Regions from separate parts of the Homo sapiens genome. Here region 2 is reported to be linked to region 1. The links are microRNA targets in miRTarBase. Many come from high-throughput screens and were not tested one by one. Region 1 holds a microRNA gene; the other region holds the end of a gene's coding sequence.

The links. The annotated mature microRNA hsa-miR-4733-3p reads CCACCAGGUCUAGCAUUGGGAU and lies in region 1 at 3,512-3,533, shown strand. An mRNA with a match to its seed (bases 2 to 7 or 8) in the 3' UTR can be bound and repressed. Matches are read on the target gene's strand: a 7mer-m8 pairs with bases 2 to 8, a 7mer-A1 pairs with bases 2 to 7 and ends in A, and an 8mer does both.
Region 2: miRTarBase lists SLC38A5 as a target of hsa-miR-4733-3p. Seed matches in the 3' UTR shown: 7mer-m8 at 1,201-1,207.

Annotation. Positions count from the first base shown.
Region 1 is chr17:31,090,148-31,097,890 of GRCh38, reverse strand. It overlaps MIR4733 (microRNA 4733), which reads left to right and starts at 3,466; the gene lies at 3,466-3,541. It overlaps NF1 (neurofibromin 1), which reads right to left and starts at 2,914. Exons shown (of 58, transcript NM_001042492.3): 1 at 2,522-2,914. The coding sequence starts at 2,581. MIR4733HG (MIR4733 host gene) reads left to right here and starts at 2,401. Exons shown (of 4, transcript NR_186435.1): 1 at 2,401-2,664; 2 at 4,400-4,518; 3 at 6,773-6,866; 4 at 6,956-7,149. It overlaps LOC124903974 (a long non-coding RNA gene), which reads right to left and starts at 6,256. Exons shown (of 2, transcript XR_007065704.1): 1 at 6,184-6,256; 2 at 4,764-5,015. RefSeq lists silencers at 2,510-2,559, 2,600-2,669, cis regulatory regions at 2,525-2,835, 3,062-3,301, an enhancer at 2,904-2,921 and a promoter at 2,909-3,334.
Region 2 is chrX:48,452,110-48,459,852 of GRCh38, reverse strand. SLC38A5 (solute carrier family 38 member 5) reads left to right here. Exons shown (of 17, transcript NM_033518.4): 15 at 1-121; 16 at 214-317; 17 at 819-1,309. The coding sequence ends at 920. Among named protein-coding and RNA genes, the nearest start is that of SLC38A5, 14 kb to the left of the region's middle.

The DNA of each region.
Region 1 (7,743 bases):
CCCCCGTCTCTACTAAAAATACAAAAATTAGCCAGGCACGATGGTGCACACCTGTAATCCCAGCTACTTGGGAGACTGAAGCAGGAGAATCACGTGAATGTGGGAAGCAGGGGTTGCAATGAACCGACATCAAGCTACTGCACTCCAGCGTGGGCGACAGAGCAAGACCTTGTCTCAAAAAAAAAAAGTGAGGAATAATCTCTCCTATATATCTTTCTCTTAATTACAACATAAGGAATGCAGAAAAATGCTGTTTTAAAAACTAATGTCCTTAATTTTTAACAGATGGTGGTGAGTTTGATTCCACAATATGCATAACAAACAACGAAGCCTTAAGGTCTTTTAAAGCTAGGGACAGAAGGAGAAACACTTTCTTGCTTTACTGGGTATATAATCAAAATCATTCCTCCTTTTTTTTTTTTTTTTTTTTTGGAGACAAGAGTCTCGCTCTGTCGCCCAGGCTAGAGTGCAGTGGTGTGATCTCAGCTCACTGCAACCTCCACCTCCCGGATTCAAGCAATTCTCCTGCCTCAGCCTCCCGAGTAGCTGGGATTACAGGCGCCCGCCACCATGCCCAGCTAATTTTTGTATTTTTAGTAGAGACGAGGTTTCTCCATGTTGGTCAGGCTGGTCTCAAACTCCTGACCTCAGGTGATCCACCTGCCTTGGCATCCCAAAGTGCTGGGATTACAGGCGTGAGCCACCGCGCCCAGCCCAAAATCATTCCTCTCTTAAGTATCTTTTTCCAATATGGCAAATAAGCCTAGAGATGAACAGGTAAGAAGTAAAAAAATAAAATTAAGAAAAAACTGAAAAAAATTTTTAATTTTTAAAATTTAAGGAGAATTGCGGCGTGGATCCTTCAATTTCCTACATCCAGATTCTGCTGTCCACAAGGTTCAGCTTTGGAAGTCTTCTATGTGCCTTTTAAATCCTTTCTTAAAATTACAGAGTCTTTTCTACCAAGTTTTAAATCTAACGCTCTATCAATAATGTAATCTTTTATATGCAGTAACATTATACTTCAGATGGATTAGTAGTTTAGTTTAGATGCCTTTGGGTCTGGAAGCATACGAATGGATAAAACAATTCCTTCAAGTCTCTGACAGCTTCATAACTCTATTTTATCTACATAGCTTCTTCTCAACTTCCTCTGTCTATTCCAAGATATTTTCCAGGTAGGTCTGAAACGCTGAGTCCCGTAAAGAAATGTTTATGCATCAAATAACAGAAGAGCTCTTCCCCCACCCCTTCAGCTCCCATAATGTTTTACCATTATATCCAGTAAACAAAATAGGTTGACTCAATCTTAAACAATTCCCCCATCACAGGAAGCCCACTGCACCCACAGCTGCAGAAAGCATCCCTTAAACCATCCCCAACTACCTACAGCAACACAAAGTTAAACCAATTTCCACTGACAAAAGGCTATGTGTGCATTTATTCTAATCAGCCCCAGGATTTATTGTGTGAAACTCAGGCGATAAAAAGTCACCTCCTCAAGCTACAAAACTTTTTTTTCATCCCAAATATTCTCAATGAAAGTTCTCTTGTCAACCAGGAGAGAGTCAAAAACAACCACAAACACTAGCAGAATGATCCGCTCCAGGACCACATCCCAGCTGGCTTTGCTCTGTTGTCGGTGGCTCTGAAGCAGTTTCTCACTTTCCTTTCACCCTTCTCCCCTTTACTCCCCAACATTCTCACTCGAGAATGCATCACATCCTCAGACCGCTGGCAAAAAAAAAAGGGGGGGGGGAAGAGACTGCAATTATCAAGGAAGGGGAAGATATTTCAGAACCACGGTTTCCACTGCAAACGGCAATAAAAAAAAAAGGCAGTCTGTGTCATCAGGATATGGGGGACGACGTTGTAGGGCATCACAAAGATGTGCAGTGAGTGTGCACTTGAAGCTCTCGGGGCAGGATGAGACGATGGAGCAGAAAGTAAGAAAACCTGTGCCTTCCTTGCTTTCTTCTGCTCTTCCCCCTCCAGGAGAGGAAGCTGAAGAAACTGGGGGAGGGGCGGAATGTTATCGTTCTCCTATTGAGGGTATATAAGACAGGCCTTAGGGTTCGCTCGTCCCCAGTTAGGAGGGTCACGGAGGGAAGAGGAAGAGAGAACCCCTAAACGTTACCCACCTCTGCTCAAAAACAAAAGTAAGGGGGTAATTATTAAATCCAGATGGCGCGCCCCTAAAGGCGCCCCCAGGTCACTCATCCCCATTTCCAAGCGGAAGGGCTGGGATAAAGGGGATGGAGGGTCGGAGGCTGGTCAGGGACAAGGCCCCACCCCCCGACTTAGGAGGGAAAGGGTGCCCAAGCTCCCAGCTGTCCCCTCCTACCCCTCACCTCCCGCCTTGGCCACCCCCACTTATCCCCCCTTCCCTTCTCTTCCCTTCCCTTCCTTTCCTCCAGAGCCTGAGGCAGCCGCGGGGGAGGCGGCCGCTCCTACCTCCCCTCACCTACTCTGTCCCCACCCCCACTCCGCTCCCACCTCCCGCCCGCCACGGGCCGGTTACCTGCTCGTCGAAGCGGCTGACCACGGCCTGGACCCATTCCACCGGCCTGTGCGCGGCCATGTCCTCCCCGCGGCCGGGGGGCGGCGGAGGGAAGGGTGGGCCGGCGCCCTGGGCCGGGAAGAGGGCGGGGAGCGGAGGCTGAGGTGAGGGAAGAGGCAAGGAGAGGGTCTGTGGAGTGCAGGCTCCCAGTGTTCCCACGGGGGTGGGGATGGGGGGTCAGCGCCGAGCGGGAGGGGGAGAGGGAAAGGGGGCGTTGGCAAGGAGGCTGGGGGGAGGGGGATAGGGGAAGGGGACCCGGGGAGGGGAGGGGGCCTCTTGGTCGCTCTCCCCACTAGCGCCGTCTCCCCACAGCCATCACAGTCCGAGACGCCGCCATGACACCCCACCGGAAGTGGGATCCTTTCCACGGCCCGGGGAGAGGGAGCGCGAGCGAGCTAGAGATTGAGAGCGCGGCTGGGAAAGGGGAGGGGGAAGCGAGAGGGAAGGCGGCCTGCCGCGCATGCGCCCGCGCCGGCCGGTTTCATTAATGAAAAAGCGAGTCCTCCTGGAGGTGACGTCATCTAACTCCTCTGGGCCGTCTGGCGAGCGTCCCTCACCGCCGTGGGGCTCACCTAGACTGGCGCTGGGCTCAGCTGGCGAGTGCCAGAGCTGACCCGGGAGCATCCACTCCCATCCCCACCGCCCCCTACAGCTGTCCCCTCCCCCGCCGGCCTCCGGGTTTGGATTGCTCCCGGAGTTGGAAGTTAGGGCGCCCTGGGGCTAGCCTTTCTCCCAGCGCGCGGATCTCTGCCGCTAATCTCCTGGGGAGGCTGTGCTCTCAGCTTAAGCTCTCAGAAAAAATAAGGTACACGACCTCCGATTTTCAGGTTCTTCGTAGCTTGGTAGACTGCTGAGAAACAAAAAAGGAAGGCCAAAGAGAGATTCCGTGATTTTTTTTTTTTAGAGGTCGCTTAAATCCCAATGCTAGACCCGGTGGCAATCAAGGTCTAGCCACCAGGTCTAGCATTGGGATTTAAGCCCAGCTTTCCTCTGCAAAACTCATAGCCATCCAAGTTAATATAACTATTGCACAGTTGATGAGAGATTCAAGTTTCACCACCCTCAAAACACCTTTAAGGCCTTGCATTCATTATTAATTCAATATATTCATCGTCTTATTTAAATCCTTGAACAAACCTTTTCAATACATATCATTAACTTCATGAACTGATGAATACGTCACGTCCCCACCCCCGTGGGAACGCTGGGAGCCTGCACTCCTCCCTCAGACCTTTGATTTGCCCAAGGTCTGAGTTGACAGGTGGCAAAGTCAGGATGTAAACCAACGTGGTTTAACTCCTAGAACAATAGAGGTAGACTATGGGTCTCCTAAAACAAAGTCCTTCCCTATACCTCCAATACCAGAGTTGAAAGGATTTCATGTGTAATTGGGTTGTGCCAGTTTTCCAGGAAGAGGATTACATCCAAAACAACGGATAATCTATGTCTGACATTGGACTTTGGAATGACTAATTTTTTTTTTTTTTTTTTAAGACAGAGTCTCACCCTGTCACCCAGGCTGGAGTGCAGAGGCGCGATCTCGGCTCACTGCAACCTCCGCCTCCCGGTTGAAGTGATTCTTCTGCCTCAGCCTCCCGAGTAGCTGGGACTACAGGCATGCGCCACCACAGCCGGCTAATTTTTGTATTTTTAGTAGAGACGGTGTTTCACCATATTGGCCAGGCTGGTCTTGAACTCCTGACCTCATGATCCGCCCACCTCAGCCTCCCAAAGTACTGGGATTACAGGTGTGAGCCACCGCACCTGGCCTGGAATGAGTAATTTTAAAATTTGTCTTCCTCGATACATTTTACCTAGGCAAATGTTTTTGTTTTTCAGAGACAAGGTCTGACTCTGTGCAGTGGAGTGCAGTGGCTCAATCATAGCTCACTCCAGCCTCAGACTCCTGGGCCGAAGTGATCCTCCCACCTCAAGCTCCTGAATAGCTGGGACTACAGGTGAGTGTCACCCTGCTTTGGCTAATTTTTTTTTTTTTTTTTTTTTTGGTAGAGACACAGTCTTGCTATGTTGCCCAGGCTGGTCTGGAACTCCTGGCCTCAAGTGATCCCCCTGCCTTGGCCTCCCAAAGTGCTGGGATGACAGGGGTGAGCTACCACACAGGCCCCTAGGCCAATGTTAAAATGAATTTACACATTCCAAGCACGCGCTAATCAGCCAGTTAAGCCACACAGACACTGGGTGATAAGGGAGAACAAAACTAGAATTTTAATTTTCCTACAGAAAAGCCACAAAGCCAGTAGCCCACATACAGAGAGATATATCCTTGAGAAAAGTTTCCAATCTCTAGGTTGGTGGTTGTCCAAAATACATATTAAATTAATGTTTTATTCCACTAGAACAGACAGACAGTTTGGACATGTCTTTTGTCCCTTCTTCTTTAAGGATGCAATGCAGATACTAATTTCTTTTAGATGATGTCAGAATGATGACTATGCTGGAAAGAAATGGATGAATATTAAATGAATGTCTATCTATGTTTCTCCCAAGTAGGACCCCTGAAAAAGCACTCACTCATACCCCCAAGATAGTATTCCAGTGCCCCCTACTGCACTGCTAAACTTCAGACCTATGACCTTCCTCTCCTTTTCTCATACTTCCTCTGAAAGTCCCTAACTACTTCCTTGTTGCCATGGCTTTTTGCCTGTCTATCTCCCTGATCTTCTTCCCTACACTGGATGCAACTGCCCAAACCCTCAGCTCCCTTGCCTTCCCTGGCATTCCGTTGCTGAAGTTCCTCTGTGCCTTTCTCTCCTCTTCTTCTCTAGTTTAGTCTACCATTGCCCACTCTTCTTTAGCTCTGTGGTAAGACACCCAAACTTCAGGCCCTGGCCCTCTGCTCTTCTTCCTTTACTCAAGCTCCTGCCAGCATGTCATTAATTCATCCTAATTTGTACTCCCTGTTCTGTTGCCTCCCCTCAGTGCCAAACCTCTCATTATAGTCAGAGGCCTAGACTTCACCCCAACTTCCTCTCCAATTAAATTCATTCAGTTCTGCTGAACCAGTATTAAGTGTCCAAATGGGCCGGTCGTGGTGGCTCACACCTATAATGCCAGCACTTTTAGAGGCCGAGGTGGGAGGATTGCTTGAGCCTAGAAGTTCAGACCAGCCTGGGCAACATAGTGAGATCCCAGCTTCTACCAAAAAAAATTATTTAAATTAGTTAGGCATAGTGGTGTGCATCTGTGGTCCCAGCAACTTGGGAGGCTGAGGTGGGAGGATCACTTGAGCTAGAGAGGTCAAGGCTGCAGTGAGCTGTGATCTCGCCACTGCACTCCAGCCTAGGCAACAGAGCAAGACCCTGTCTCTAAAAAATAAATAAAAATAAAAGTACCCAAATGCCTGTTATGTATTATGTACTTTGTTAGACCATACATAGTACATATGGCAGGAATGCTAAACAAAAGTGCCAAAGAAGACTGGACGCTGTGGCTCATGCCTGTAATCCCAGCACTTTGGGAGGCCGAGGCAGGCAGATCACCTGAGGTCAGGAGTTTGAGACCAGCCTGGCCAATGTGGTGAAACTCCATCTCTACTAAAAAAAAAAAAAAAAAAAAAAAAAAGCCGGGCATGGTGGCACATGGCTGTAATCCCAACTACTTACTAGGGTGACTGAGGCAGGAGAATTGCTTGAACCCAGGAGGCTGAGGTTTCAGTGAGCCTAGATTGTGCTGCTGCAATCCAGCCTGGGCGACAGAGTGACTCCATCTCAAAAAAAAAATGCCAAAGAAGGTAATGCATAGAGACTGTGGTGAATTAAGAAGCATATACCCACCTCCATTTATCCAGATAAGAGATACTCTCTCCATTTAAAGAGTATCTGTCACTCAACTCCAGTTACTGCCATGCAGGAATGTTGACCCAGTGTTGCTAGATCTTCTAGTTACTCAAGAGAAGCTAGAGATCTGAACTTACATATAAACTCTTCCAATTTTTACATAGTGGCAGCCAATTTACATTTTTTAAATGCTGTGTAGCCAAACAAAATACGTCTGCTGTCTGAATGTAGCCCATGGAACACCAGTTTGACCAGCACTAGTCTAGTGAAAAGGCATGAGCCTTACAGTAGAACAGAATTAGATTTGTATCCTAACTTCCCCCATTTTGCACTGTCCAACAGTATTCAGGGAACCCTTAGTGTTTCGTATTGTTTTAAATGCATCTCTCTCATTCAGCCTCTGTTTTTTGGTCAGGCAACAAGCTCTGCCAATTTTTTCTTCGAAGAGTTTTGTTCCAAGCTGGGAGCCGTGGCTCATGCCTGTCATCCCAGCACTTTGGGAGGCCAAGGTGGGTGGATCACTTGAGCCCAGGAGTTCCAGACCACCCTGGGCAACATGGCGAAACCTCATCTCTACAAAATTTTTTTTTTTAATTAGCTGGGCATGGTGGCATGTGCCTGTGGTTCCAGTTACTTGGGAAGCTGAAGTGGGAGGATCGCTTGAGCCCAGGAGGTCAAGGCTACAGTGAGCTGTGATGGTGTCATTGCATTCCAGCACTCCAGCCCGGGCATCAGAGTTAGACCTTGTCTTAAAAAATAAATAAATGAATAAATATAAATAAAAAATAAAAAGCTTTTACAGTAGTATTCCCTTCATTCTGCCCACCACCCCCATCTCCACTGGCACAACCAACCATCCCAGCATACCAAAGAGCACACCACTCTTCAGGACTAAGGTGCTCATTTCCTCAGCTGCTGGGCGCATTACTTGTCAACACCTATCAGCTAAATCCCTTTCCAGGAGTTGCCTTCAGCTGAAGAAAGCTGCCTCTCACCAGGTCCGTCTGCACTGACTGGCAGATGCAGGGCTCAGGGTGGGGCTGCTCTGAAGGGCTCTCCTGGCACCAGAGCTCCCTTAGGATCCGGAAGCTGAGGCATTTGCTGTAACTACATTTAGTTCAACTTTTTCTGCTCAATCCTACTCCTTTCCTGCACGGTGTTGATTCCAAGGGCAATTAAATCCATGAGTGTGGCCGGACACCATGGCTCAGACCTGTAATCCCAGCACTTTAGGAGCTGAGGCAGGTGGATCGCGTGAGCCCAAGAGTTCAAGACCAGCCTGACCAACATGGTAAAATCGTATCTTTACAAAAAATAAAAAAATTTGCTGGACATGGCGGTGAGCAGCTGTCATCTCAGCTACTCAGGAGGCTGAAGCTGGAGGAT
Region 2 (7,743 bases), not on the chromosome of region 1:
CTTTTCCCAGGCAAGGCCTTCAGCTGGCCACGACATGTGGCCATAGCTCTGATCCTGCTTGTTTTGGTCAATGTCCTTGTCATCTGTGTGCCAACCATCCGGGATATCTTTGGAGTTATCGGTCAGTAAACCTCACCCCAGTCCCATACCCCATCTAATATGGGCCTTGTCCCCAAGTCAGGTTGACTCCTGTCCCTTCTTCTTGTTCTCCAGGGTCCACCTCAGCCCCCAGCCTCATCTTCATCCTCCCCAGCATCTTCTACCTCCGCATTGTACCCTCTGAGGTGGAGCCTTTCTTATCCTGGCCCAAGATCCAGGTAAGCATTCCAGGGCAGAGCTAGGGAGAGAGGGAGCACTCCAAGGAGGGAGTGCTCACTCCAGGATGGCTGGAGGTGAAAGGGACATGCATAGGAGGGGGCTGGGAGAGCATCTGAAAGAATGGTCTGGAAGAATGAAGGTGATTGTCTAGGAAGGGGCAGAGGAGACAGAGCACCAGCAGGGTCCAGGAAGACAGGGAGCACTCAAACAGAGGCTGGCATAGAGGGAGCATTCTCCAGACAGATGGAAAGAGCACTATTGGGAAGAGAGCTGGAAGCACTTTGAAGAAGGAGGATGGAGGAACGTATTCTGTCATGGGTCCTGGGAAGGTGGAAGGACTCGCAGAAAGGGGCTGGCTGTAAGGAAGGAGAGGGCATACAGAGGAGGGTCAGGAATGGATGGAGCACTCTCTGAAGGAGGTGGAAGACTTGAGGAACATTCTCAGAAGGCAACTGGGTGAGGAGTCCCAACCAGCCCCATCTTGTCTCTCTGGCCCACAGGCCCTGTGCTTTGGAGTCCTGGGAGTCCTCTTCATGGCCGTCAGTCTAGGCTTTATGTTTGCCAACTGGGCCACAGGCCAGAGCCGCATGTCTGGACACTGATCAGGCCCTGCTGGCCCAGGTCCCTGTGCGCATGCACATGGAGGGGTCAGGGCCGCTCCCTAGGGTCCCTCCTGCCCAACATGTGGAGGTGGCTGGTTCCCATGAACGTGGTTGTCAGAGGCGGGGGACAGCAGAGGCTGCAGACTGGCCCACTTCCCTCCTCCCCAGGGATGCCAAGCTTGGATCATGGCCCTAATCCCAACCCCAACCCCATGGGAGGAGGAGGAGGAGGAAGAAGAGGAGGAGGAGGAGGAGGAGGAGGAGGAGGAGGAGGCCAGGTCCTGGTGGAGCCTTTGCCCAGCCCAGTCCTCTCTGCCTCCTCCTGGCTGAAGCTGTTTGTCAGGATTACCCTCGGGCTAAAGAGGAAAAATAAAGATGTTGAGCTACCACTCTGGACTCAGCCTTCTGATCTTTCTCTTAGTCTTGCTGGGGGAGCCTGCCGGAGTCCAGGCTGGAGCAAACTGAAGCCCTGCGAGTGGGACTGTGCCTGATCATGCATTCATTCACTTCACTCTTTCAGTAACTTGCTACTCAACTTAATATTTCACCCACTTGGCCAGGAGCAGTGACTCACGCCTGTAATCCCAGCACTTTGGGAGGTTGAGGCCGGCGGATCACTTGAAATCACAAGTTTGAGACCAGCCTGGCCACCATGGCAAAACCCCGTCTCTACTAAAAAATACTAAAATTAACTGGGTGTGGTGGTGCACGCTATAGTCCCAGCTACTTGGGAGGCTAAGGCGGGAGAATCGCTTGAACCCAGGAGGCGGAGGTTGCAGTGAGCCGAGATTGTGCCACTGTACTCCAGCCTGGGCGACAGAGTGAGACTCCATCTCACACACAGAAAAAGACTTCACTCATTCACTCGGTAAACATCTCCTGAAAGCCTACTGGGTGCCAGGCACTATTCTAGGTGCTGGGGATATAGCAGTGAACCAAGCAGACAATAGTGCCCTGGAGTTGATGTTCTGACACACGAGTGGGCAAATCCATCCTGCTGCCTATTTTGGTATGGCCCTTGAACTAAGACTGGCTTTCATATTTCTAAATGATTGAAAAAAGGTGGATCCAGCATGGTGGCTTATGCCTGTAATCACCAGCACTTTGGGAGTCTGAGGCAGGAGGATCATTTGAGAGCAGCCTGGGCAACACGGCAAGACCCCATCTCTACAAAAAATATTAAAAGAAATAGCCGGGTGTGATAGTGCAAGCCTATAGTCCCAGCTACTTGGGAGACTGAGGTGGGAGGATCGCTTCAGCCCGGGAGATTGAGGGTGCAGTGAGCTATGATCACGCCACTGCACTCTAGCCTGAGTGACAGAGTGAGACCCTGTCTCAAAAAGAAAAGGGGCTGGGTGTGGTGGCTCATGCCTGTAATCCTAGCACTTTGGGAGGCCGACGCGGGCAGATCACCTGAGGTAAGGAGTTCTAGACCAGCCTGGCCAACGTGGTGAAACCCCGTTTCTACTAAAAATACAAAAATCAGCCAGGCATGGTGGCACGCGCCTGTAATCCCAGCTACTCAGGAGGCTGAGGCAGGAGAATCGCTTGAACTTGGGAGTCAGAGGTTGCAGTGAGCCAAGATCTCACCACTGCACTCCAGCCTCTGTCTCAAAAAAAAGAAAAGAAAATGAAAAAATATTATTAAAAGAAATAATATTCTGTGACACTTGGAAATTATGTGAAATTCAAATTTCAGTGTCTAAATCATTTACATATCAATTTCAGTGTCTAAATTATTTACATATCATTTACAGTGTCTTCTTCATTTACATATTGTTTGTGGCTTTCTCGTGCAGAGCTGAGGATTTGCAACAGAGACCATATGGCCTGCAAAGCCTGAGCTATTAACTCTCTGGCCCTTTTCAGAAAATGTTAGCTGACCTCTGACCTAACAAAGAGAATAAAAGAGAAATCATTCCTCATAAAGATGGTGCAATGAAGAAAATGAGCGATGTGAGAGTGGTGTGGGGAGGTGGTGGGTGAGGAGGCATTCAGCGAGACTTCACTAAGGAGGGGGCAATGAATTTGGTCCTAGGTTGGCTGAAAGGAGCAAGCCTCATGGTTATTTTGGCAAAGGGTGTTCCAGGCAGAGGGAGCAACAGGTGCAAGGGCCCCGAGGTAGGAACGAGCATGGCTGGTCCAAGCAAGAGCAAGGAGAAGCTAGCATGAGTATGTGAGTGCCATTTTCACCACAGCCTTGTCAACAGCCTGAGCAATGCAACAGATTTTTGTCAACCTCATAGAAAAAATGGTATTGCCATTACACTTCACATACGTGTGTGTGTGTGTGTGTGTGTGTGTGTGTGTGTATTTCTAATTCTTTAATTTTTAATTTTTAACTGTTTTTGAGACAGGGTCTTGCTCTGTCATCCAGGCTGGAGTGCAGTGGTGCCATCACGGCTCACTGAAGCTTTAGCCTCCCAGGCTCAAGCTATCCTCCTGCCTCAGCCTTCTGAGTAGCTGGGACTACAGGCATGCGCCACTATGCCTGGATAATTTTTAAAATTTTCAGTAGAAATGAGATCTCTCTATGTTGCCTAGGCTGGTCTCAAACTCTTGGGCTCAAGTGATCCTCCCACCTTGGCCTCCCAAAGTGCTCGGATTACAGGCATGAGCCGTATTTATGAAATAAGGTTTTTTTTTTTTTTTTTTGGCAGGGTTTCACTGTCATCCAGCCTGGAGTACAGTAGTGAGATCACAGCTCACTGCAACCTCAACTTCCCGGGTTCAAGTGATTCTCTTACCTCAGCCTCCCAAGTAGCTGGGACCACAGGCATATGCCACCACACCCGGCTTATTTTATTTTATTTTATTTTATTTTATTTTATTTTTTAGATGAAGTCTTGCTCTTGTCTCCCAGGCTGGAGTGCAATGGCACGATCTCGGATCAGTGCAACCTCTGTTCCCCGGGTTCAAGTGATTCTCTTGCCTCAGCCTCCCGAGTAGCTGGGACTACAGATGTGTGCCACCACACCTGGCTAATTTTTTGTATTTTTAGTAGAAACGGGGTTTCACCATGTTAGTCAGGATGGTCTCGATCTCCCGACCTCGTGATCCACCTCCCGACCTCGTGATCCGCCTGCCTCAGCCTCCCAAAGTGCTAGGATTACAGGTGTGAGCCACTGCGCCCGGCCTTTTTTGTATTTTTTTGTAGAGACGGGGTCTCACCATGTTGCCCAAGCTGGTCTCGAATTCCTGGGCTCAAGTGATCCACCCATCTCGGCCTCCCAAATTGCTGAGATTATAGGCATGAAGCACCGCACCCAGCCTGAAGGAAGCTTTTAGATGTTTGAGAGACATTTGCTTATCCTCCCAGATAATTTTTACGCATTTATAAGCTACTACACATATATATTATTTCCCTGCTTCTATTTACAAATAGGGCAGTTGTCTGTAGTTGATTAATACTATATGCTCCTTGTTTCACTGTTCTTTATCCCTTACTGCCACTAAACTTAAGCTCAACAAGCCATTCTTTTTGAGAATAACGGTAGCCTGAAATTCCAGCACCTGGCCTTCAAACTGCAAGTCTTGGCTGGGCACGATGACTCATGCTTGTAATCCCAGCACTTTGGGAGGCCAAGGCAAGAGGATGACTTGAGGCCAGGAATTTGAGACCAACCTGGGCAACATAATGAGATCCTGTCCCTAAGTTTTTTTTTTAATTAGCTGGGCATGGTGGTGTGCACCTGCAGTCTCAGCTACTCAGGGAGGCTGGGGTGGGAGAATTGCTTGAACTAAGGAGTTCAAGGCTGCAGTGAGCTGGATTGGACCATTGCACTCCAGCCTGGGCAACAGAGTGAGACCTTGTTTCAAAAACAAAAAAAAAAAACAAAAAAAACAAACAACAACAACAACAACCCCCCCCCACCAGAAACCTCATACCCATTAATAGTAACTCCCCACTCCGCCCAGCCTTTGGGAACCATGAATCTACTTTCTGTCCCTACGGATTTGCCTATTCTTGGCATTCATATAAGTGGAATCATACACTGTGGTCTTTTGTGTCTGGCTTCTTTCACTTAGCATATTTTCAAGGTTTATGCATGCCACAGCATGTATCAGTACTTCATTAAATCTTCCGATCCATGAAAAATGGGCTATCTTTCCATTTATTTAGGTCTTTAATTTCCTTCAGCAATGTTTTGTAGTTTTCAGTGCAGAAGTCTTACACTTCCTTGGGATGCAAGTCCTACTTAGGGGATTTTAGTAGTCTTTTGGTGCTGCTATGATAGAATACCTCAGACTGGGTAATTTGTATAGAACAGACATTTATTTTCTCACAGTTCTGGAGGCTGGAAAGTCCAAGATCAAGGCACCAGCATCTGGTCAGCGCTTTTTGCTGCATTCTCATATGGCAGAAGGCAGAAGGACATGAGAGAAGCAACTCCCTCCATCTCATTTATAAGGACACCTAATCTCATTAGGGAGAACCCCTCATGGCCTAGTCACTTCTTAAAGACCCTATCTCTTAATACTGTCACATTGACAACACCTGAGTTTTGGAGGGGACACATTCAGACCATACTAGGGATTAAAAATAACATCTTAATTTTTAGCAATCTAGTTCAGATTGATACCAACTTAATTTCAATACTATACAAAACATTGCTCTTATATAGCTTTGTCCACTCCCTTTACTGCCACTAAACTTAAGCTCAACAAACCATTCTTTTTGATAATAATGGTAACCTGAAATTCCAGCACCTGGCCTTAAAACTGCAAGTCTTGACTCATGCCTATAATCTGGGCACTTTGGGAGGCTAAGGAGGATGACTTGAGGCCAGGAATTTGAGACCAACCTGGGCAACATAGTGAGATCCTGTCTCTACACAATATTTATTTATTTATTTATTATTTATTTATTTATTTATCTATTTATTTAGAGACAGAGTCTTGCTTTGTTGCTCAGGCTGGAGTGCAATGGCACGATTTTGGCACACTGCAACCTCTGCCTCCCGGGTTCAAGCGATTTTCCTGTTTCAGCCTCCTGAGTAGCTGGGACTACAGGCATGCGCCACCGTGCCCAGCTAATTTTTGTATTTTTAGTAGAGACAGGGTTTCACCATGTTGGCCAGGCTGGTTTCAAACTCCTGACCTCAGGTGATCCGCCTGCCTTGGCCTCCCAAAGTGCTGAGATTACAGGTGTGAGCCACCGCGCCCAGCCCCAATTTTTTTTTTTTAATTAGTCGGGCATGGTGGTTTGCACCTGCAGTCCCAGCTACTCAGGGAGGCTGAGGTGGGAGAGTTGTTTGAACCTAGGAGTTCAGGGCTGCAGTGAGCTGTGATTGCACCACTCACTCCAGCCTGGGCAACAGAGTGAGACCTTGTCTCAAAAAGAAAAAAAAGCAAGTCTTCATATTTAACAGAAAGAACCCCAAAAAGAGATGAGGGCAATGTCCCTACTCCTAGCATCAGCAGAAGATGAATTTTTCATTTTGATTATTACACTTTTAAACTCCAGAAATTTCTATTTGGTTCATTTTTTATATTTCTATGTCTGTATTGATACTCTCTATTTGGTGAGATATTGTTTCTATACTTTAGTTCTTTAGACATAGTTTCTTTGAGGTTTTTGGACGTATTTTAAATAGCTCATTTAAAGTCTTTTTATTAGAAAACCCAGCATCTGGCTGGGCGTGGTGGCTCACACCTGTAATCCCAGCACTTTGGGAGGACAAGGCAGGTGGATCACTTGAGGTCAGGAGTTCAAGACCAGCCTGGCCAATATGGTGAAACCCTGTCTCTACTAAAAATACAAAAAGTAGCCAGGTGTGGTAGTGGGTGCCTGTAGTCCCAACTACTTGGGAGGCTGAGGCAGTAGAATTGCTTGAGTCTGGGAGGCAGAGGTTGCAGTGAGCCGAGATTGCACCACTGCACCCCAGCCGGGGCGACAGAGCAAAACTCTGTCTCAAAATAAATAAATAAATAAAATAAAATACATTAAGAAAAAAGGAAAACCCAACATCTGGGCTTTCTCAGGGATGGTTTCTATAGGTGGTCTTTTTTCTTTATTCTGTGGATGGGTCGTATTTTCTTCTTTCTTTGCAGGTGTCATAATTTTTTATTGAAAACTGGACATTTCAAATAATATAATGTGGCAACTCTGGAAACCAGATTCTGTCCCTTCCCTGGGGTTTCTTGTTGCTGTTTTGTTTGTTTGTTTTCAATGTTTGTTTAGGCTGAGCTCGGTGGCTCATGCCTGTAATCCAAGCACTTTGGGAGGCCAAGGCAGGAGGATCATTTGAGCCTAGGAGTTTGAGACCAGCTCGGGCAACATAGTGAGACCCCGTCTCTTAAAAAAGAAAAAAAAATTGGCCGAGCGCGGTGGCTCACGCCTGTAATCCCAGCACTTTGGGAGGCCGAGGCAGGTGGATCGTGAGGTCAGGAGATTGAGACCATCCTGGCTAACACGGTGAAACCCCGTCTCTACTAAAAATACAAAAAAATTAGCCAGGCGTGGTGGCGGGCCCCTGCAGTCCCAGCTACTCGGGAGGCTGAGACAGGAGAATGGTGTGAACCCGGGAGGCGGAGCTTGCAGTGAGCTGAGATCGCACCACTGCACTCCAGCCTGGGCGACAGAGTGAGACTCCATCTCAAAAAATAAATAAATAAATAAATAAATTAAATTAGCTTGGTGTGGTGGCGCATGCCTATAGTCCCAGCTACTCAGAGGCTGATGCTGGAGGATTGCTTGAGCCTGGGAGATCAAGGCTGCAGTGAGCCGTGTTAGTGCCACTGTACTCCAGCCTGAGAGACAGAGCAAGACCCTGTCTCAAAACACAAGTTTGTCTAGTTTTTTTCCTGAACAAATTCTGTA